3 separate regions of the Homo sapiens genome follow, and all the other regions are linked to region 2. The links come from fine-mapping of genetic effects on gene expression. A gene starts in region 2. Each other region holds a variant in brackets. All regions are shown on one strand. Distances are between the middles of the regions.

Region 1 (8,283 bases), 25 kb before region 2:
GTTATTCCACCTTCTCTTCCACCTTCTCCATCTTTTCTGCCTCTGCCACCCATGAGACAGCAAGACCAACCCCTCTTCTTCCTCTTCCTCCTAAGCCTACTCAACATGAAGATGATGAGGGTGAAGATCTTTATGATAATCTACTTCCGTTTAATGAGTAGTAAATATACTTTCTCTTCCTGATGATTTCTTTAATAGCATTTTTTCTCTAGCTCACTTTATTGTAAGAATACAATATATAGAAAATATACAAAATATGTGCTAATCAACTATGTCATTGATAAGTCTTCTGGTCAACAGTAGGCTATTAGTAATTGAGTTTTTGGGAAGACAAAAAGTTATGCACAGATTTTTGACTCTGCAAGGGGTTAGCACCCCAACCCCTGCATTGTTCAAGGCTCAACTGTAAAATAACATGTGATTGTGAAGGGTTTTTATTAACAATTTTAGGCATTGTTGTCATGTAATGGAGATGTTTGAGGGCCACAGGGAGAACCGCTAGAACTTTCCAAATCATGCCAATTAAGTGCCCACTTGGTCACACGGTTATTGATTTTTACCTTAGTGTAAGAGCACTTACTCCCTTGTTACCTTAAATTCCTTTTGCCACCCATCTGGTTCTCCAGTTTCTAATTAAAATTTGGAAGTTTCATGAAAATTCGGCAGGAACAGTTTTTATGAAATGTTCGCTACAGTGGAGCAGATTGTGCTGCTCATCCGAGGCAGCTCTCAAACTAATTTAACTCTCAGCTCTGTAGACTTCATACAGAAAGGCAGGGGAAGCAAAAATGGAGCTGTGATGAATGATGCCAGTTGAAATGCCTCATGCTTCTGACTCATTTCAGAACCATTATCATCTCGATAGAAACATCCCCTCTACCCTCCATATTTTTGCGAGGAAACGTTACTAGAAAAGCAAGGTCCAGAGAGAAGCAATGCATTAATGTTGTGATTAGGCTTAAAGATAAAGCAGCACTGGACATCCAGAGTTGTCTTGGTCACTGGATCAAAGGGAAGAAATAGCATTTGAAGATATGGGAAGGGAAAAGTCTACATACCTAAAGCAGGGCTGACATCATATGATGATAAATAGCTGTTACTTACTAAATATTTACTCTGTGCCTGACACCGTGATTATAAATAAATGTTCTCGTTTGATTCTCAGAATTGCTGAATTAGTCAGGTGAGGCTAACAGCCATAACAAACACCCTCAAATCTCAGTGGCTTGATATTTTAAAGGCTGATTTTTACCCATGGCACAGTATGGGCAGAAGGCGGGGGAGGGATTCAGGTTCCTTCCTGAATAAACTCACCCTCCCCAGGACCTTGAAGTTCTTCACTGGATCTTCTGCATCTCACTGGCAGATGAGGGTAGAGGGAGCAAGTTCACATGGCAGGGACCCCATGGGAGGGTTCTTAAGATCTAGGCCTGGATATAGCATGCATCACTCCTGCCAACATTCCATTGGATAGAATGCAATCACATGGCCTGCCTAGCTGCAAGAAAGGTTGGGAAAAGTGCACAACGACTATGACCAGGAGGAAAAAGAAAGTGTGAGGAACACATAGTCTCTGACCTAAGTACTTATCATTACCCCCATATTACAGATGAAGCTGAGTTTTAGACAGGTAAAGCAACTTGCCCAATAGCACATAGCAAGTAAATGGTAGAATCAGGATAGGTTTTTGGCATGGTAAGTTCTTGGAAGAGCCCAAGAACCTGACTACAAGTTATTGAGCTTTGCAAGTAGAGCAGAAACTGTCACATTTACGGAGCACGTTCTACAAACCTGGGCATTTTTTTTTTGAATTTGTGGACATTACAGTGAAATATGTAGACATTATAGTTTTCAACACTACGATGGAAAGACAATAGTGGGAACAGGGTGAGGACAAGGTAATCTAAAGGTGATACCTCTTTAAGTACTTGATTCCCCGCAAAGGTTCAGGTCTGGTCCCCTGGCTTGCTCCCCAGGTGTTAGATGATAGAACTGAGCTCATCTTTTGCTGCACGCAAGCATGCACCCTTAACCACTGCAGACTCTCTCAAAGATTTATTTAAGATTCCCTTGTTTAACAGCACCTACTTTGATATGGCTACAGGGGAACCTACCACATTTTAGACTTAGGTGCAAAGCATTAGATCTTATCCCACCACTTCCTTGTCTCACAGAGCAGTGGTAGTCCCAGTGTGTCACCTGAGGCCTAAGGTGATGAATTTATTTCCCTACGCTGTGTTCAGGCCATGTAGAACTATCAATATCCACATAAACTCACCATGTTCTCTTGACTCCCGGCCTTTGTACTCATTGTTCCCTCAGCCCCAATGAGTCTAGAATCACTGGTGTGGACCTAGATGTCGGCAATTTTCTTTAGCTACTCAGGTGGTTCTATTTTATGGCCAGGGTTGAAATCCAATGACAAGATCAGTCTAAGCCAATCGTGGCCAGTCACATTCTCCTTGGCCAGATCAGTGAATGAACATACTCCTTATCAATCAACATAGATAGGATTTTGGGAAGTCAATTCTCATGATATGATCACTATCAGTTCTCTGATTGTCATAGACTATCTTGAGTGTATTTTCAAGGCCCCCTTGTATTAGTCATTTCTCACACTGCTATAAAGAAAAACCTGACACTGGGTAATTTATAAAGAAAAGAGGTTAAATTGGCTCACAGTTCTGAAGGCTATACAAGAAGCATGGCAGCATCTGCTTCAGGGAAGGCCTCATGGAGCTTTTACTCATGGCAGAATGCAAAGTGGGAGCAGGCTTCTAACATGGCAGGAACAGGACCAAGAAAGAGAAGAGAGAGGTGCTACATGCTTTTAAACAACCAGATCTCATGATAACTCACTCACCTGCTATCACAAGAACAGGACCGAGGAGATGCTGCTAACCCATTCATGAGAATTCTGCCACCATGATCCAATCACCTCCCATCAGGCACCACCTCCAACAATGGGGATTACAATATGACATGAGATTTGGTGGGGACACAGATCAAAACCATATCACTCCTATAACACTTTCAGCTTGTTCCTATCATAGAATTCTTCCTTGTTATGCAATAGGCCAGCCTGGGAGATGCTGCCCTAATGATTTGGAAGACTGTCTACTCCTATGTGCCACTGTAGCTCAGTAGGGCACCCTAGGGCCACCGCCACTCTGCAGAACACTGAAGTGGTGACAGTGGGTTCTAGTTCTCTGCACCAAGTCTAAAATGTGGTAGAAAGGGGAACTTTCAAAGCATTTTGTACACGTTGTGAGGAAAGAATGATTGCCGCTTTAAATCTTGACTCCTCTGTACACCACTTGGCCCTCAATATAAAATCTGTAAATAGCCCTGCCTTTCTACGTCTCCCAGCTCCCCACCCTGCATGGATTCTGTGTCCAGACAAGTGAAGGTTTCTTGTGGCTGACCCTGAGTTTCCTGCTACTCTGCCTTTGGTCACACTGTTTGCTTTCCTAGTATGCTCATCTCTTCCCCTTCCCAAACTCCTCAAATGTTACCACCTTAAACTAAAGCTAAGGGTTTCTAGGTTCTCCAGCGGAGAGTGGAGTCAAGAAAAGGGTTCTAGGAAAATTTCAGGGTGTGGATGCTGCATCTGTTGATCCAGCCACCTAGGCACTATAGATGTACCTTAGGCACAAAGTGGCTCTGTGTGTGTAAACTGGAAGGTCGGCACCCCACAGGTGCTGTGACATCAGAAGCTCAGACCTGATTAGTGCAGTTGTTCCAAGGGTGGGCACAGTCCTGGAGCAAGAGAGAAAAAGAGAGAGGGAGGGAGAGACAGAGATAGACACACACACACAGAGAGAGAGAGAGACCATTTATCACCTAAAAATCTCTAAGAATCTTTTAGGACTGTCAATAGTTATCTGTCTT[G/A]ATACTGTAGTAATATTAAAACAAATAGGGTCTCATTCTAGATAACTGAACTTTATGGTTTTTGCACTGATGTAAAGCAACACAAACAGCAGACAACAGAGCCCTTTGGTGGACTCACCAGACTTTCTGGTTTCTTCTATGAGGTAATATTAACTAATTAACAATGAATAAGTTAATCACTTTGGACTATCTGCTCCTGGTACTTCTATCAGGGTACTTCATGGGAAAAGTACCCTATAGGAGTAGGATAGGTTCCCCTGATCAATAAGATGAACTTCAGTTATTATGGTTTGAGCACCATATTAGTCTGTTTTCACGCTACTGATAAAGACATACCCGAGACTGGGTAATTTATAAAGAAAAAGAGGTTTAATGGACTCATAGTTCCACATGTCTAGGGAGCCCTCACAATCATGGTGGAAGGCAAAAGGCACGTCTTACATGGCAGCAGGCAAGACACAGAATGAGAGCCAAGTGAAAGGGGTTTCCCCTTACAAAACCGTCAGATCTTGTGGCACTTATTCACTACCATGAGAACAGTATGGGGGAAATCGCCCCCATGATTTAATTGTCTCCCACAGGGTCCCTTCCACAACACCTGGAAATTTTGGGAGCTACAATTCAAGATGAGATTTTGGTGGGGACACATCCAAACCACATCAAGCACTAAAACAAATGAGACATTATTTTGCACCAAAGGTAGATGAAGCAGGACATGCCAATCAAATTGATGAAATAAAGCACCTTTAATTTTGTGTCTCATTTACTTCCTCAAATTTCTGATGTACTGAAATGATTCAGTAAGTGCATACTAAGGGCTTGTCATCTGCTGGGCACTCTTGAAAGTGCTGGAGTGTGGCAGGGAACCAGGTAGAATGGTCCCTAACCTCAAGGAGCTTCTGGTCTGTACCTAGAAGCTCTTGCTCTGTTTTCAGAGTCTCTCTTTTGCTGGTATCTGGCTATGATAGAGGGAATTCAAAAGCAGCTTTAAAATGTTTTCTGCAGAAGAACAAAGCAGTAGTTACCAGTATGAGAAGAGGGGAATTGCTACTTTGACACCTACAAATTGAAGGATGGATGCCTTTGTTTCACATCTGTTTTCTCCATGTGAGAAGCAGCCAGCTCCACTGATTGTGTACTGTTGAGGGTGACCACTCCATTTTTCTCTCCTGGAAACATGTAATTTAATGTGAAGCATCTATTGATGAACTGCAAGTATGAAGAATTCTCAGGATAATGTACTTGATTTTCCCCTTGAAATGCAATTCACATTTATTAAGTATCTTTTCTATACAAGGCATGGAGCAAGGTGCTTCATGCACATAATCTCATTTAAGCCTCACAGTTGCCTCTGAGGTAGGTGCATCATTAGCCAGCTTTTATAGACAGGATAAAAGGGAAAAGAGGAAATGGTAGCCCAGGATTCCAAAAAGTGCAAATTCATTTCCAGTGGATGAATACACTTATGATTTTGTTTCTCTTAGATGGGTTATGATAAACATCTTTAATATTAATACCTGCCTTACATTTGCATAATTCTTTCAACTTTTCAAAGCACCTCTTTTATACCTTATTTGATGCTCATGCTAAGCCCTATGCTCCTAACAGTCTCGAACTCCTTGATGGTGTCTCTTTGAGAGCCTAAATCTCTGCAGAGCTGGCTTTTGTTGCATAGCTAAGGTTCAGGACTAAGCTAATAAAAATCTTGCTTCCAGACATCTAATCTGCATCTTCATTTGCAAGGTCTCCTTGGGATGGTGTGACCTGCTGTTTAGTAAGGACATCAGTGCTCTCATACCAGTGATTACTATGGTTACATCTGCCCCAACATTCTCTAAAGCCCTAGATTTTAGAAATATTGGTGTCTTTACTACCTTGTCCTTGTCTGGATCTTCCTGTCATGCCTGAGTTAATGATAGCCAAAGGGAAAGGAATGAAATAAAAAGAAGGAAAAAGACAGCTCTGCGAGCTTGTACACTGAGGTGCATATATTCTCAAAAAAACCAGAAACCAGCCTAAATGAAGAGGGAGGGGATGGTGGCAGATGAAGCATAAAGCAGGTGCTTACTTAATTGCTGCAGCTGGTGCCAAGTGTTTGGCATAATTTTTCTCCTTATTTTCAATTATTGGCACTGTTATTTTACTTTTTAGCTGAAGCATCTGAGAACAGTCTAGGAAGCTTCTCTGCTCCTCTCACTTTTACAGGAAAGCAAGCAGGCATTTTTTTTCCTGAAAATATTGTAAATAAACACAATCCTTGAAATTTTTTCTTGTGCCCCAAAACAACTCATCGACTATAGAAAAGGAAGAGAAATTGGCTGAAATGCAATTTGACGTTTTCATTCTGCCAAAATTACTATGGGTTGAATTTTTAATTTGATTCAGAAGACGATTCAACTCTTCAGCCTCATCTATGTGATTTTGATTTCAGAATAGCATGTCTGAGACCAGAGCTTCCTAAGCTGTTTTCTTTTAAAACACAGATTGTTAAATTCTCCAATTGACATGGCATATTCATTTTGCTATTTGACTTTTTTCTTTTAAGTAGTGAAGGTAAAAGTTGCAAAAATATTGGATGAAAGTCATTTCATGCCCTGTTATTCCACCAATTTTTAAGAAGAGTAAGCGCTGTGCCAAAACCTTATATAGAACAATGTGCAAAAAACAATACAAGGACCCATGAGGAATGCAAAGATAAACAAGATGTAGTCTTTTTCTTTCAGCAGATTTAGTCCTGAAAGGAGAATAAAATGAGTACAAGCAGTAACATAACAGTTTTGAGGGAAGTAACAATGATATGCTAAAAAAAAAACAGCACACGTCTATCAATTACTTTTGATGGCAGATCTAACATAAAGAAAATAAAAATGTTTCATCTTTCTCCCTTTTAAAGTAATTCTGCTTAGAGAATGCTATTTAATCACTGTATTTAAGGTGACATTTGAATTCTGAAGGTTTTATCTCCTATTGACTCTATTCTAGAGAGAGAGAGAGAGAGAGAATACGCATGTGCACAGTTTTGAGCAGAAAAAAATATTTTTATTTTAGAATTTTGTTTCAGATTGCATTTCAGGAAAAGGAAAGGAGAAAAATCGTGCTCCCAGAGGGCATTGGGAAATGTGGGTTACAGTCTTGTTTTCACCTTCAGCCATTTGTGTTTCTGGGTTCCTGAGTGCTTAGGCTGGGTTACTCCAAGTTTCCTTTCAGTCTTCATAGTCTGAGTGTGATGCCTCGCATCTTGTCCTGAATGAATCCAGTGGCTTTCCCATAGGGAGCAAAGGAAACTGAAGGCTTGAGGGAGTATCCAAGGTGCCAGGAGGTGTAGGGAAGAAAGAATGGTACTACTGGATGAGACACTCTTGGGCCTCTCGGTTTTCTTAACTTCCTATTTAAATACTTCATCATTTGTAGAAAGCCTTAAGTTCAGAGCCATTCACAATTTATACTGGGTCTGATTCCTTTTCATTCCCACTGTAGCATTGGCTTTTAAGAATGTAGAAGCATGGCCTAGCCAAAATATATATATATATGATTTACAGGCTAGTTAGAGTTTGTGCTGAGCTGTGTCTGCAAATAAGCCTTTAAGGTAAATGAAAGAAGTTCTAAAGAACCTGAAAAGGAAATGGGAGAGAGTGTGATGTGACAGTGAGGAATGTCATTTTTCTCTGTGGTTCTTTCCTGTCTAATTTCACAGCCAGCAACCTGGTCCAGGCTCTAATTAACCACATGTCCATAGGCTGCTGCTGATGCTCTAACAATATCCAGTCTTCAGACTGTTCCTGTCCAGTTTACACATCATTGTCCTTCCTCAAACACTCCCTTCACCATGGTGCTTCCCTAGGCAGTGATTTATTATGAGTCCTTGTTACCTGGTACAACTCATCTCTTTTGTTTATTTACTTATTTATTTATTATGATTACATATATTTAAAGTATACAACATGGTGTTTTGATATACATAGAGCTAGTGAAATGATTACTGCAGTCAGGCAAATTTACACATCCACCACCTTGCATGGTTACCTTTTTGTGTGTATTTGTGGCAGAAGCTTCTAAAATCTATATTAACAAATTTTTAGCATACAAAACAATATTATTAAACTCTAGTCCTCATGCAGTCCTTTAGATCTCTAGACTTATTCCTCCTACCTAACAGCAAGTTTATACCCTTTGACCTACATGTCTCCATTTTCTCCCAATCTCTGCCCCTAGTAACGACCGTTCTACTCTCTATTTCTATGTATTGGACTTTTTAAATATCCTACATACAAGTGAGATCATGCCATATTTTTCTTTCTGTGTCTGGCTTATTTCACTGAGCGTAGTGTCTGTAGGTTTATAAGTGTCACAAATGGGGATATCTCCTTTTTTTTTTAAGGTTGAATAATACTT
Region 2 (8,283 bases):
AGCTCAAGTGAGCTACTCAAATTCCTCTAAATAACCTGTGGATATTTCCACCTCTAATCCTTTACCGAAACTCCCTTGCCTTGACTGCCCCCTCCTCTCCTCTCCTCTCCTCTCCTCTCCTCTCCTCTCAAGAGCTACCTTTAAGTCATAGCTTAAGTCCCACTTCCTCTACAAAGCCTTTCCTGCCTCTTACTAATCCCTCTGTCTCAATGTATGTGGTACCTTTCCTCCATAAAAAAAGTTTCTAATTCTTTTAAGTATCACAAACCACCATGGGCCTTATTGAAAGGCAATATGTATGGTGGTCAATAGCGTGAGCTTTGGGCTAGGTGCTGTGGCTCACACCTGTAATCCCAGCACTTTGGAAGGCCGAGGTGGGAGTATAGCTTGAGCTCAGTAGTGTGAGACCAGCCTGAGAAACATAGTGAGACCCTGTATCTACAAAAATCTTTTTTCAAATAGCCAGGTGTGGTGGCAGCAGCCTATGGACCAGCTACTAAGCAGGCTGAGGTGGGAAGATTGCTTGAGCCTGGGAGTTGAGGCTGCAGTGAGCCATGACTGTGCCACTGCACTCTAGCCTGGGCAACAGAGAGATAACACTCTCTCTCTACTTATCTCTCTCTATATATACATATATGTGTGTGTGTATATATATATGTATATATTTAGTATTAGTACTCACATTGCTATAAAGAACTACCTGGGACTGGGTAATTTGTAAAGAAAAGAGGTTTAATTCACTCGCAGTTCTACAGGCTGCACAAGAAGCACGGCTGGGGAGGCTTCAGGAAATTTACAATCGTAGTGGAAGGTGAAGAGGAAGCAGACATGTCTTACATGGCAGGAGTAGGAGAAAGAGAGCAAAGAGGGAGGTGTTACACACTTTTAAACAACCAGATTTCTTGAAAATTCTATCACAAGACAGCACTAGGGAGATGGTGGTAAACCATTAGAAACCACCCCCATGATCCAATCACCTCCCATTAGGCCCCACCTCTAACATTGGGGATTACAATTCAACATAAGATTTGGCTGGGGACACAGAGCCAAACCATATCACACACACACACACATATATATGGTGTGAGCTTTGAAGTCACTTATATTTGTGCCCCATTTGCTTACTCATGACTCTGGAAGTGTTATATAATTTTTTTAAAAAAATCTGTTTTCTTATTGTAAAATAGGGATAATAATAGTACCCACTTCATTTGTTCAATAAATATTCTGAGCAACTATCATGTGTCTGGCACTGTGCTGAGCACTGGGGATTCCACACTGAAAAAGAGAGGTATGCTTCCTGCCATTGTGGAGCTTGCATCTCAGTGAGGGAAACAGGGCTAAATTATTACTACGTATGTAGCTAAGTGCAATGGAAAGTAATGTGCATATTATCAGTAATCCTATCTAGTCTGTGGGAGAGATGCTCATGAAAGGCCTTTCCTTCACCTAAGTTGAGTTTTGAAGGATAAAGAGGAGTTAGGGAGGCAAACAGAAAGGGTTTAAGACCATTCCGGGTAGAGGAAATGGTAAATTTGAAGAGGCATGCATGTTGAAGAAACAAAGAAAGCCCAGCGTGGCTCCATAACATCAAATGTTATGGAGGTTAAGTGAGACAGCAGATGGTTCTGGATATTTATCGGTATATAACAAACAACCTCAAAGTCTTAGTGGCTTGAAACAATTATACTTATTCTGATTATTAGTCTGCAATCTGGGTGAGGCTCAGTGAAGTTACTTCATCTCTGCTCCACTCCATGTCAGCTAAAGAAGTAGAGTGACAAACCCAGGCAGAAGCTCTAACACCTTTTGCAACTTAGCATCAGAAGTGTCTTAGCATTACTTCTGCTATAGTCACTGACATGCCCAGATTCAAAGCTGTGGCCATAGGTATTAGCTTATGTTAGAGAAGTGTCAGCATCATATTATAAAAAGAACATGGAAAATGCAATCTTCTCAAAGACACACAGTATTAGAAGAATGCATATTCAGCCAGGCGCAGTGGCTCACCCCTGTAATCCCAGCACTTTAGGAGGCCAAGGCGGGATCACTTGAGGTCAGGAGTTCGAGACCAGCCTGGCCAACATGGTGAAACCCTGCCTCTACTAAAAATACAAAAATTAGCCAGGCATGGTGGCTCACACCTGTAGTCCCAGCTACTGGGAAGGCTGAAGCAGGAGAATGGCTTGAACCCGGGAGGTGGAGGTTGAGCTGAGATGGCACCACTATACTTCAGCCTGGGTGATGAAGTGAGACCCTGTCTCAAAAAAAAAAAAAAGAAAAGAAAAGAAAGAATGCACATTTGTTGGGCGCGGTGGCTTACGCCTGTAAGTCCAGCACTTTGGGAGACCAAGGTGGGTGGATCACCTGAGGTCAGGAGTTCGAGACCAGCCTGACCAACATGGTGAAACCCCATCTCTAGTAAAAAAATACAAAAATTAGCCGGGCGTAGTGTGCGCCTCTAGTCCCAGCTACTCGGGAGGCTGAGACAGGAGAATTGCTCGAACCCAGGAGGCAGGGGTTGGAGTGAGCTGAGATCACGCCACTACACTCCAGCCTGGGTGACAGAGTGAGACTCGGTCTTGAATAAAAAAGAATGCACAGTCATAGTTTATATCAGAATTATTACTTGGTATTATCACCACCATCATCACCCAACTTCCCTCATCCTGACCACATACTTAATATAGTATTTTGTTGCTTTGAGTTACATAGCATTGGTGCACATTTAAATTTTCATATCCATTGAAATAACATATTTTATAAATTAGGAACAACAGGTTCATGCATGTACTAGACACTTGGTATATGATAGAATATATTGTTGTAGTTATTCCACACATTGTCTGTCTTACTAGTCAACCTTCAAGGATAAGGAGTTGCTGTTACATACCTGTAACCCTGATGTCTAGGGCAGTGTCCTGCCCAGAGTAGGCACTGAATAAATGTTTGTGTTTTTTATTGTTGTTGAGCTATAATTGTTAACTTGAGATTTCCTAAGCAGGTGGGTTTTCTATCCTGTATTATTTCTAGTTCAGATCATGCAATCTATGCCTAATATATATTTTCTATTTACTCTTTTTCAGTAACTGCTGTCTCAAAGTAAAAAATGGAAATCTTTGCCTGAATGGACTGGTAGCAACAGATCTGAAATTCTTAGAAATGTTGGAACCAGAAGCTACTTCCCACACAATCCATGAAGTGGGGGAGAGAGAGACAGAGAGAGAGAGAGAAAAGAGAGAAAGAGAGAGAGAGAAACTGGGTCTTATAGAGAGACAGACACAAGTACTACCCAGTTCTCGACCCTCACCAGGTTTGTGGCTTTAGGTTCTGTGCCTCTCTTCCTTATGTGTAAAATGAGGCTAATAACACAGCAGCACAGGGTTGTTGGAAGAGTAAAATGAAGCAACAAACAAGAAGATGCTAGGGATGGTAGAAAAATGCTAATAAATGTCAAATATGGATAGAAAGGAAATTGGATATGAGGTATAGGTCTGTTTAGTTTTATTAACAATAAAATAATTATATATTTAATATATTTACCAAAAAAGAAACTGCTTGACAAAATAATTCCATATACTATAACGTCAAATTGTAAGGCTTCCTATTGCTTTCACTTTTTTTAGTAAAAGTTTTTATTGAAGTATAATCTGATTGCATTTTGGAATAAGTTAATTTACAATAATTTAATTTATCTTATAGCCTTTTAAGATCACATTCAGTGCAATGGATAAAGCAGAATGTATCTATAATTTATTGTCAGGGTTAGAGACTTGAACTGATAAGGATATCGTTATCTACTGTTTAGGGCAAAAGATGTAAAATGACTGTGCATTAAGTGCCAAGGTTTTCTCTAAAAAGGGCCCACTGTAAACGCCAGAAGCGTGCCAGTTCAATTCAACAAATATTTAATTAGCACTTGTGATTTCCAAGGCACCGTTTTGGGTACTGAGGAGGAAGCAAAAAATGAATAGCTGCTAATGCCAGCGAGAGACAAGACATGAACCAAACAACTAGAGTGGAAAGAGTGGGGCGTCGTGATGTAGAAAACGCAAAGCACAGGAAGAACCTAGTGGCGCTTAAAATAATCCAACTTTTCCTGCCTTTTTTCTTCTTCTTTTTAAGATTCTATTTTGGATCCCTTTTCGCATGTGCCAGGTCGCTTGTCGGCAGAGAATCCTCAACCCTGAGAAATCTCTCCTCCTATTCTTTCTTTCCTCACAAATTCGATGAGCTCTTCTGCCATCAGCACTGCTTTTGGAATGGTATCTATTGTGTGGGTGGCGAAACGATGGAGAGATATTTTTGTTCTAATTATGAGAACTGTTTTACTGGGGGAAGGAGGGAGAGGCTGATCTGAAGCGCTGATGAGCTGCTCTGAGAGGATCCTCCGAGGAGGCGTTACTAAGGTTACTAGAGAGAGGACGGCAGGTGATAGGCACGGTAAAACAAAATATATTTTCAAATGAGAGGCGTGGGCTAAGCAGCAAGCAGTGCCAGCGGTACTAGATGCCGGATTCCCTAGAGGGGAAAGGAAGGAGGCCCAGGGAAAAACTGGGAGCCGCGACTTGGCGAAAGCTGGAAGCCTCTTCGTCCCTTTCCGGGCCGTTTCTCCCGCTGCCCTTGTTTCCCGGAGCTGTTCTGGCTGTAGCACAAGGTCGGCGCACTCGGGGGACGGTGCCATTTAGATGTAACACGTGGCCGTGTCGGACCGGAAGTGGTGCCCAGTCGGGACCCGTAGGGAGAGGCGGGTTGCGGGCGGCGGCGGCGGCGGCGGCGGCGGTGGTGGTTGTGGCGAGGCTGTGCGGCAGGGCGCACGGGACCTGTGCTGCAGCGGCTCTCTCAGGCCGTGGGTCGTCGCTGCAGCTGCCGGGAAAGAAGGAAACGACGACTCCGGGGGCGAACTTGGCACACAGGGAGGAAGGGAAAGGGTGTGTGAGGAGGGCTGTGGGTATATTTGGCATCAGGGAGAAGGACCTCAAAACTTGTTTTTCATATAGTACTAGCTGATCGTCGGGTTTTTTTTTGTTTTGGTTTGGTTTTTTTTTTTTTGGATGACAGATTCTGGAGACACCTGGCATCTCCGTTTTTGAGTTTCTCCCCGCTCTTGTCAGTTGATTCGTAGGCCTGAAGTGAGTGAGAGCTTTTTAGTTCAACCAGTGAGTTAAGATAGGTATGGGTCGGATGGAGCGGCCAGCGAATAAAGAAATGGGAGAGTGGGAGCAAGAATAGGAAGTCGTGTCCTGGGGCGAGGGAAAAGATGATGATGATGATGTAACATTTACTGGGTTTCACTGTACAAGACACCGTTAAAACCCTTTAGATGAGGCAACTCTTTTAATCTCCATTCGTATGAGGTCAGCCATCTTACTAGCCTCTTTTTATAAATGAGGACACTGAGGCTTGGAGAGGTTAAGGAACAGGCCCAAAGAAAGACAAATGGAAAGTGCAGAGCCAAGCAGTGAAATCTAGTAGGCTGATCCTAGAATATATCTCTAAACACACTACAGCTGTCCCCCATCAAGATGTAAAGAACGTGAGGACATAGGACAAAGAGTGAGAGGACAATATGGCTTGAACAGATGTGGTAAGACAGCTGGAGTTGACCTAAAAAAGGGTGTAAAATCCAGGTGTGTAAGGCAATAACAGATGTAAGGGAGGGTAGAGTTGGAACTCGGGCTTTCAAACCTTCATCTCCAACCTTAACTAGCATCTTCCTATCTAGGATTTTAGTGGGGCAGAGAAGAGAGGTATATACCCACACACCTATGTTTGAAAATGGAATTACAGACTTTAAAGGTTATTTAAAGATTTAAACAACTTAAAGATTATTTCATGTAGCTATCTTATTTAATAGATGAAGTCCAGGGAGATGAAATGACTTATTCAAGGTAGCCAGGACTAGAAACATGTCGTTTACCCTAGATCCAATGCAATGAAGTTTAGAGAGTTCTTTCCTCTTTTTCCAGCTGCACTTGCTGTCGTTATATTAGTTTTAACAATTTGATATATCATTTAACCTGGACTGTTCCTTCCAGCCATGTAAATTAGTTATGTATGACATCAAATAGTCCATCCTTCCTTCTTAGTGTGTGTTCCAAATTCAGTGCAAAGCTGGAACTAGGAGCTTCTTCCAATACAATTGAGTGGCAACTGAGGTCTTCCAGCATTTCTAAGAATTTCAGTTCTAAAATGAAGTCCCAGCATTTTGGGATGCTGAGGTGGACGGATTGCTCAAGCCCAGGAGTTTGAGACCGGCGTGGGCAACATGGCGAAACCCCTTATCTACAAAAAAAAAATTTTTTTAAGTTTGCCAGGTGTGATTATGCACTCCTGTAGTCTCAGCTACTTGGAGAGGCTGAGGTGGGAGGATTGATTGAGCCCAGGAGGTTGAGGATGTGAGCCATCAAGGCGCCACAGCACTCCAGCCTGAGCAATAGAGCGAGACTCTCCAAAAATAACTGGATAAATAAAATGAAACAAGAGAAAGCTGACTAATCCAAAGGGCAAGGTGGTTTACCTTAAAGAAACTCAAAAGAAAATGGAAATCTCTACATATATTGAAAAAGATTACAGGAAAATTTTCATCAATTGATGATGTACTGTTCACAAATACTGTAATTCTCCTGGAATATAGTAAATCATATTCCAGAGAGGAAATTTGGAGTAATTGAAATTGTGGGCGCAGGAATCAAGTACAGCAGATTAGCCACTTACTGGATTTGTAAATAGATTTACTTAACTTTGATTACTTCATTCCTAAATGAAGATAACTTTCTAACTTGCAGAATTAGAAGTGTTGTTTGTAAAGTATTTAACACAATGTCTAGAACAAAGTTGGTGATAAACACACAGTGATTATTACTACTCTGAATCAAAAGTGAAGGATTGCTAAACCTTGTAAGCAGTCACTGCAGCTTTTAGGCCTGGTTTTTCAGTGAAAAGATCAAAGAGTAGCCTTCTTTGTTCACCTAATGATAATTAAGGGTGAAAAATGTTGATGCATTTCCTGAAAGGTATGTCTCTTATTTAAAAGCGAATGAAAGTTTTAGATGGCTAGATGGCCTGTGAATAGGAATCTGCCCACAATGATCCTTTAAAACTATTGTGGCTGTTTAAGATAACTTATTTTTGAATTATTGTTTCCTGGACAATTGGCAACATAGATTCTAAATAGCTGACTTTGTACTCCTTTACAGATGCATGGTCATGGAGGCTATGATTCTGATTTTAGTGATGATGAACGCTGTGGAGAATCCAGCAAAAGGAAAAAAAGGTAAGTAATTTTTTTTTATTGATCTATTTTTCACATCCTTTCTAGATTAATATGAAGTATAAATAAACAAGAGTGAAATTTTTGAATTCTGTTTACATGTGAAGACAATTGCTCTAGTGAATGAATTTTTGTTCATTAAGCTAATACATTGATTAAAAATTGGAGAACAATTGTGGGAAAAATAAAAATTAATTCTGCAAAGGGGTTTATTGAAAGGGAAAGAAGAGTTTCAGATTTCTGGAATCTTTTCAGAAATCAGTGAAACCTTTTCATTACATATATTTTTCATTCAACTGTCAAGGACTGTTTATTTGTAAATGTTGTAGCTCAGAAGGGGCTTGAATGGTGGTCTCTTGCCATTACTTGCCTTCAAAGTGAAGTTAATATGGAGGATGAAAGTATAATGCAGCACAGTTCTTACGCATACGTGAATGAGCAGACTAAGGTCACGGGAAGAAACTCAAGGAAGGTTTTTTTGAATTGCAAGAGACAAAAACTCTTAGCACATAAAGCCTGTGCGTTATAAGCAGGATACGTCTTGGTGGAGCTGCTGTGCGTAGGAGCATTGTTCTTAGCTTTCAGTGCATAGAAACTCAGTTTTATACTTTGACTCAGGAGTGGTTGACTGATGTATACTAACCAAACTTACACGGCTGTTGACTGATTTTTTTAAGCAAATGTATAGAAATTGGCTTATTATTTCACACTGAGAGCAATATATTAGGCATACTAACAGGTTCTGAACATTTTTATAGGATACTCAGTCTCTGCAATAAAGGATAGTACTAATTATAATAAATTACATTTTTGATGCTTTACATTTTCTAGATTTTTCATTCAAAAATACTACTTTGTAAGAATAGAATTTGAGCAAATCTAGTTGGATACTCTGCTCCAGGATTATATTCATCACTATAACTAGGGCTGACAGTCTATGGCAGGGTGTCCAGTCTTTTGGCTTTCCTGGGCCACATCGGAAGAAGAATTGTCTTGGGCCACGTACTACA
Region 3 (8,000 bases), 61 kb after region 2:
CGTACCTCATCCTGCAACAGAGTCTTACTGTACTCCAGGTGGTGCCTCTCCAAAATAGAAGAACCATGAAGTCTTGCTAATGGAGACGTGGATCTAGAAGGAAAACAACATGCCATGATTCTAGCTGTTTAAAAATTACACATAGGTTCATACAATTCAGGATTTTTCTTAATGTCTCTCTTCTCCCTCCTCACTCAATTATCTGTGAAGTGGTCAAAAATAACATATTGGAAAAGATTTTCTAGATTTAGAAGATGAGAATATGCTCTTTTGGAAAAAAAAAACCTTAATTTGTTGAATGCATAAATGATTTAATTGTTTAAACTAAGGAGTTCAGCTCCTTGTATCTAAATTCTTTAAGTTCCCTGGGGCTTATGGCGGTGGACTATGACTTATAAAACATATAGCAAACATGTGGAGGCCCATAGGTTATCTGCATAGAACCAAGATGAAAAGCACTATAAGGTAACATTTCTCTCCTCCCCCAAGACAGTGAGATAAATGTATCTCCCTGTTCCTTCCCATTTATTAACAATTAGATCACAGCTTTATATAAGTAGGGGCCCCAGTCTTTTGTACCCTGTTTTTCTTCAATGCCTTCAGGGTAAAAGAGGCTGATGTCAAAGGTCTAGAGATTATGTGAAGACTCTCATGAAAATATAGAATAAATAATTTTAAAGAAAGAAGAAATAAAAAACATGGCTGGTAGCCTTAGTAGAGAAGCTTTATTTATTTCATGGAGAACAAAACTTTAGGCTGGGAGAGGTCATTGCCAGGTTACTGGCAGGTCAGGGAAAGCAAATACTTTAGTTGGGGAATAATTAGGCCATATCTGATCAATATTACAATCGATCATAATTTTAACACATATTTAAACAACTACTCTGTGTTGGCATTAGAGATTTTTAAAAAAATGAGTAAATCCCAGTTTCTATAACCACCAAACTGCTTTCTATCTTCTGAGATCCACTTTTGAAGCCTCCATATATGAGTGAGAACATGTGATATTTGACTCTCTGTGCCTGGCTTATTTCACTTAACAAAATAATCTCCAGTTCCATCCATATTGCTGCAAATGACAAGATTTCATTATTTTGGTGGCTGAATAATATTCCATTATATATATACTATATCGATATAGTGTATATATACTATATATACTATATAAATATACTGTATATGTACTATATATATACACTATATATATGTACTATATATAGTATATATATAGTACTATATACATACTATATATATACTATATATATATATATACACGCACCACATTTTCTTTATTTGAAGATAGAGAGTAGTTTGGTGGTTATCAGAGGCCAGGAAGGGTAGGGAGGTGGGAAGGATGAAGACAGGTTGATTAATGGGTACAAATATACAGGTAGGTAGAAGAAATAAGACCTACTGTTCAATAAATTAACAGAGTAACTATAGCAAACAACAATCCATTGTTATTTCAAAATAGCTAGTAAAGAATAATTTGAATATTCCCAGCATAAAGAAATCATAAATGTTCAAGGTGATGGATATCTCAATTATCCTGATTTGACTATTGCACATCATATGAATGTATCAAAATATCATGTACCCCAAAAGTATGTATATCTATTATGTAGCAATTTAAAATGTATATTTTTAAAAATGAAAAAGCTCAATTCTAGTCAGAAAGGAGTGGTATCTTTAATTCCTTTAGGTTTAAAAACATTAGTTAAAAAATGTTATTGGGAAGCTAGATATTAATCTGATCTCAAACTAACGTTTCACGTATTACTTATTAATTGCAAAGGAGAAAATGTTCCTTTACATAAAGAGATCTTCTGGACATCGCCCATAAATAAAATTGATATCATGGGCTTCTTGACACAATGCATTGAGAAGGACACAGCATCATCTATGTAGTATTCCTGCCAAAAAAATGTTTAGTCTGAATTTATTAATCAGGAAACAAGTGGTTAAATCCAAATTGAAAGATATTCTGCAAAATAGTTGGCCTAGACTCTTCAAAAACATCAACATCCTGAAACACACAAAAAGGTTGAGCAACTACTCCAGATTAAAGGAGATTAAAGATATTTGACAACTAAATGCAAAGTGTGCTCCTTGATTAGATCTTGAATTAGAAGGAAAAAATAGCTATAAAGGACATTATTGTGGTAATTGGAAAATTTTTAAAAAACACTTTATATTAGGTAATATTATTGTACCAATACTGAGGGTGATCATTGTATTGTGTTTATGTAGGTGAATGTCCTCCTAATTCTTAATAAATATATGCTGCAATATTTAGGAATGAAATCTAGTATTGCAGCTGACTCACAAATGATTTAGTGAAAAAAAAAAAAAAGAATTAGTTGGCCACATACAGTAGCTCAGGCCTGTAATCCCAGCACCTTGGGAGGCTGAGGCAGGAGGATTGCTTGAGCCCAGGAGTTCAACACCAGCCTGGGCAACATAGGGAGGCCCTGTCTCTACAAAAACAATTTAAAAGTTAGCCAGGCATGGTAGCATACACCTGTAGTCCCAGCTACTTGGGAGGCTGAGGTGAGAGGATTGCTTGGGCCCCAGAGGTCAAGGCTGCAGTGAGCTGTGATCATGCCACTGCAGTCCCTGGGTGACAGGGTAAGACCCTGTCTCCAAAAAATATATATATTATTTATATACACACACAGACATTCACACACACTGACAGTCTGCAGTCAGGAAGCCCTTCCATCACCACATGCCCATACAGTTGAGTTTACAGAGGAGGAATGATGAAAGAAAACCAGGCCAATGCAGAGGGCAGGGTGTGGCTGCATGCATCTTTCCTGCAAACCTGGAGGCAAGATGGCAACTTCAATCCTGCTACTTCCTATAACCTAGGGAAGGTTTAACTTCATCTTTTGAGCTCATCAGTTAAAGTGGGGGATACTAGTACCTCCTATATGGCACCTCCCTTCACTGTGCTGTGAAGGTTAAATGAGGCAGTAGGTATCAAGTCCTTACTAGCACACAATAGATGCTCAATTTGTTTCTCTGGAACTGAATTGGCTAGTATACTACTGATCAAGAAGGAGGACGAGGACTTCAGTGACTGTCAGGGGACTTGCATTCTGGAGGAGCGAGCGGCCAGTGTAGGCTGGAACCTTTGAGATGAAGATGTCTCTTGCCTCAAGTCTGGATGGAGATCATCTTTTCAAGACAAAGCCTAATAATAGGTAGAATTGCTGAAGATGAGGAGTCACTGCTTACAAAGTGCTTTTCGCTCAATGAAATTATATATGTGAAACCTGCCTAGCAGGCACTTTCTCAAGTAGGTTTCACATATGTAATTTCACTGGATTCTCACAACAATCTTT[G/A]AGAGGTCAACACTTTATACATCTCATGGCTAAGAAACTGAATCTCAAATAGATTAAATGACTTGTCCAAGATCCCCCAACCAAGAAGTAGTTGGTCCCCACAAACCCAAGACTCCAAAGCCCATTCAGTCTGTCTACAACACTTCACTACTTCTGGAGAGGGGTAGTTCATGTGTCAGAAATGAGAATGAAGTGTGGCTAAGGCAGATAGACCATCTTAAAACCCATTATCAAGGAACTGGGCTGGCCATGAGCAATACTGGTGAATGAATAGTCCAATGACATCACAACAATAATAGTAACCATAATAATACCTGAAGTTTATTTATTTATTTATTTTCCGAGACTGAGTCTTGCTCTGTCACCCAGGCTGGAGTGCAGTGGCGTGACCTCAGCTCACTTCAACCTCTGCCTCCTGGGTTCAAACAATTATCCTGCCTCACCCTCTCAAGTAGCTGAGACTGCAGGTGCACGCCACAATGTCCGGCTAATTTTTGTATTTCTAGTAAAGATGGGGTTTCACCATGTTGGCAAGGCTGGTGTCCAACTCCTGACCTCGTGATCTGCCCTCCTCAGCCTCCCAAAGTGCTGGGATTATAGGCGTGAGCCACCGCACCCAGCAATCATACCTAATATTTATTAACTGCCAAGATCCTACCATGAGTTGAGGGCTTTATATGCATGATCATATTTAATCTTTACAACAACCTTATGTGCTGGGTACCATTACTATAATTCTTACTTCCCAGATGAGGAAATTGAGGCTTAGAAAGTTTAAATAATTTGTGACCCAGTGAATCCAAATCTGCCTGAGCCCAGAGCTTGCACCCTTCTTATTGTACTTCCTTTCTTGGGGCAAGAGAGAAAGATGGCATCGATGTTAAGATGGAAGACCAGCTGAAGGAGAGTTTGGCAGAAGCAAAAAGACCAGGGAGGTGAAGGGTAGTGAGCCCAGGGGTAGTATTCTCTAGCCTGAGCTGGGGAGTGCTCCATAGGAGTGTACAAGTGTAAGCCTAACATTCATGTACCTTATGTACTTGTTTTTTATTTTTAATTTTTTTCGAGACAGAGTCTCTCTTTGTCGCTCCAGCTGGAGTGCAGTAGTGCAATCTTGGCTCACTACAACCTCTGCCTCCTGGGTTCAAGTGTTTCTCCTACCTCAGAGGCACACGTCTACCTCCTATAGACATGTGCCTATAATCCCAGGTGTGCCACATCCGACTAATTTTTGTACTTTTAGTAGAGACAGGGTTTCACCATGTTGGCCAGGTTGGTCTTGAACTGACCTCACTTGATCCGCCCGCCTCACTCTCCCAAAGTGCTGGGATTTCAGGTGCGAGCCACTGTGCCCAGCCAGATTCATGCACTTTAATATAGGAATTCAATACTCTGATTAAACAAAGTTGAGAGAAGAAAGCCTGAAGGCCTATAGGAAGAAGGCAGAGGCACATCTGGAAATGAAAACAGAAAGGAAAGGGGGACGCAAGAACCTAGGGAGAAAGAGCAACGTTATCGTGAAGGCGGAAGCTTGGGAGGGAATAGAATCCAGCCCTGGAATTTCCAACATGGCAAAGAGGCATTGACTGGGCCAAGGAATAGGGAGAAGCGTTTTTCTCACCCTAAGTACTTTCCAATGTCCACCAATACGTGTCAACATTGGACATGTGTTCACTTACTTCATCTGGTACAAATTATTGGTGCCTCTGTGGTCAATATCATGGCAGAAAGCAGCAGCAAGCATGGCAAAGGCTTCGAGATCTGTGTAGTACTTCTTTAATCTTCCTGTCTAAAAAAATAACATATATATGCATATCTATAATTTATTTGAATTAATATACCTCTATACCAAGTGCAGCCTGCAATAGAGAATAGGCCCACTAGGTTTCTGGAGCAAGTTCACTTTATTTGTTGTGAGTATTGTAGTACTGTGGGTGAAGACTGAACCTTCCTTTAAGAAGGTAAGTGTGTGAATGTCTGAATGATCATCCCACCGGTGCTCAAGGATACTGGGACTCATCTGCAGCGGAGAGGGGTTTGTGCCCTGAATTTTTAAATTACTGATCTAAAATGATGGACCATACCTATTTCTCATCATGCTCAAATGGGAAATCTGCAGGTTTACAAGGATTTACAGCCCTCTGTACCTACCATCAGCAAAGTAAACATGGTCTGCCCCACGTTGAACCCATGCCGCCAATTGTGGTAAGTGACAGCTCGGTACCCTTTCCTCACAGTGTACATCCATCTGGTAAGAACCTAAAAGAAGATGACACCATTCAGACTTTGGAATAGAATTCTAAAGGTTAGAAGGTCTGTGGCAATCTTATCTAAAAAGATGTGTTGGTCTTGTAGATAGGGGTTAAGCTGATGTATTTAGAAAGTTAATAATAATTTAAAATTCAAACTGAGTCCATCTTTTGAACCACAGAAAACATCAGTGAAGCAGAGCCACAGAATCACACAGTATTTTAAATTAAATACCCTCTGACCTCTACAGGTACTTTGAATTTCTCCACCACATTTATTTCAAAAAACAGTCGTATTCCACATTTAATCAATCCGTGCTCTGTAAGGGGGAAGTCACTGAAGCGGAATTCGTACAGTTCTGCTGAGCGTGGGTCTGGCAAGTCCTCTTTCTGTTGAAATAAGGATGGGTTGTTTCAGATTACATTCATCTGTTTTCCCTTTCCACTCCCATAGCCAACATTGGGTGTAAACCAAAATTACAATAAAAGAACACAATGTGTGATTCACTGAACCACCATGTGCCAGGCACTGGATGATGCAGTTTGCACAGATTATGCTAACGGCAGGCCTACACGATTATCTCCATTTTACAGGTGATGAAACTGAGACTTGGCCATATTAAAGACTTTCTAAGTGATGGGTTACCATTCTAAATCCAACTCCAGTAGCTCTTTTCTTTCAATGATGCAAAATAAAATGTTTAGTTACAAAAGCCTTACTCATTTTTGATACTCAACTTTTTTTCTGTTCAAGAAATATTCAGTAAACAGTAAACGACTGCTTAATTCAATTCTCTTGAATTTTCTTTATGTGCTCAGTGACAGTTTCCCACTAGAATGTGAGCTCCCCGAGGGTGGGGATCATCTGCTTATTTGCTGCCATATCCCAAATCTGCAGGTCCTGTCCCATGAAGGTGCTCAGGAAATGCCTGTTGAATGAATGAGTGGATGGATAAACCAATGATTGCCCTGCAGTACATAGGTATACTTGCAGACATTTCATTTAACTCACATCTGGTTAGGATTTCGGATTATGTGAAAAAATAGCCAAGTAGACACATGGCATTGGTGCGACTTGAGAAATAAAAATATGTATCTTGCCCTTAAGGAACTTAACTTATTAAAGTGGCTATAAAATATATACGAGTGAAAAGTAAGCACTTAGAATAATCAGAGAGTATGGCCAGTGCTCCATGCCGAGGGAGAAACTGAATGTCCTTGGACAGGTGGGGAAATTAAAGGAGGAGAGATGCTGGAGGGACATGCATGCAGCTGAGCTGGCAGAAGGAAGCGGAGAGACGATTCCATGTGGGTGAGAAAGTGCTAAGAGGCAGAAATGAGCAACAACTATGTGGGCCTACCAGACAGATCTGCAGGAGAGATTCAGTTCAATGGGTATTTATTTGAATGTGTAGTATGTCCTTACTAGTGCACTGAGGAGGACACAAACATAGGGAAAGGGAGGTCACTCCCCTTAGTAAGTTTAATGTTTTTCAGGGGACAGCCATGCTCTATTTACACAGATTTCAACACCGAATGGTATATAGCTATTTAAAACAAAATTACGGTTTCTGGTTCCCCCAGCCCCTGAGCCTGGGCTGACCCCTCACACTCTTGCACAGAACTGTTGCTACACCCAGAAAATCAGCTGAGCCTTCCCTGGAGGTAACATGAAAGTGCAGGCCTGGAGAGAGACTCAGGTACGTGAAGATGGACAAATAATTACGTAGCTGGGAAATGATGCCAGGATAATTTTGGAGAACTCCTCTGAAATATTTGTTACGTTCCTCAATTTTATGCAACAATGATTTGGGATTTGCCCTGAGTAGATTTTACATTCAAAATAGGCTGGTTTTTTAGGAAGTCTACTGGTTCTTTGTCCACTTTATTGCTTCTACAACATAAGATCCTTCTTCCTTTAAATAAGAAATTAGAGAATTTCTGGTGACACGGATGTCAATAAAAGTTTTGTTTTCCAAGAAGATGCCTATTGTTGAGGGCAGGTGGGGAGAAGAAAGGGTGGTCTTCTGGGCCAGGCTGAGAGGATGGTGCCAAAGGTGGAGCCAAGCAAAATGGGAGAAAAGGGAACCTCAGATGACATGAAAACACGGGGGTGGGAAGTAAGCCCCAAAAAAGGGTCAAAGACCAACAGTCTTATGGTAGCAGAGCAAAGGCCCTGGGTGGGAGGACAGAGCCCACAAAAGATGGAAAGGGAGAAGGTGAGATAGTCGATGTGTCTTAGTTTAGAAAGAATGCTCACATCACAGATCGGAAAGAGATGGTGGAAAACAGGTTATAGCAGTTAGTAAGGAAATTAAGTGTGATATTTCCATTTCAATCAGAAGGAATTCAATCCTCTGAAATTCAAGGTCTTGGGGTCTTCGTAAATATCCCAGGATTTCATGGA

Evidence for each region.
Region 1: its variant is fine-mapped to the expression of FRA10AC1 in skeletal muscle (GTEx, PIP above 0.99). The same link has a PIP of 0.9 or more in tibial artery, tibial nerve and whole blood.
Region 3: its variant is fine-mapped to the expression of FRA10AC1 in whole blood (TOPMed, PIP above 0.99).

Annotation. Positions count from the first base shown.
Region 1 is chr10:93,723,575-93,731,857 of GRCh38, reverse strand. No RefSeq gene overlaps it. Among named protein-coding and RNA genes, the nearest start is that of FRA10AC1, 25 kb to the right of the region's middle. The variant G/A (reference allele first, on the strand shown) is at 3,892.
Region 2 is chr10:93,699,023-93,707,305 of GRCh38, reverse strand. FRA10AC1 (FRA10A associated CGG repeat 1) reads left to right here and starts at 4,714. Exons shown (of 14, transcript NM_145246.5): 1 at 4,714-4,931; 2 at 7,200-7,276. The coding sequence starts at 7,200. RefSeq lists an enhancer at 4,426-4,725.
Region 3 is chr10:93,638,053-93,646,052 of GRCh38, reverse strand. It overlaps PDE6C (phosphodiesterase 6C), which reads right to left. Exons shown (of 22, transcript NM_006204.4): 12 at 5,837-5,983; 13 at 5,496-5,603; 14 at 5,024-5,133; 15 at 6-93. Among named protein-coding and RNA genes, the nearest start is that of PDE6C, 30 kb to the right of the region's middle. The variant G/A (reference allele first, on the strand shown) is at 3,348.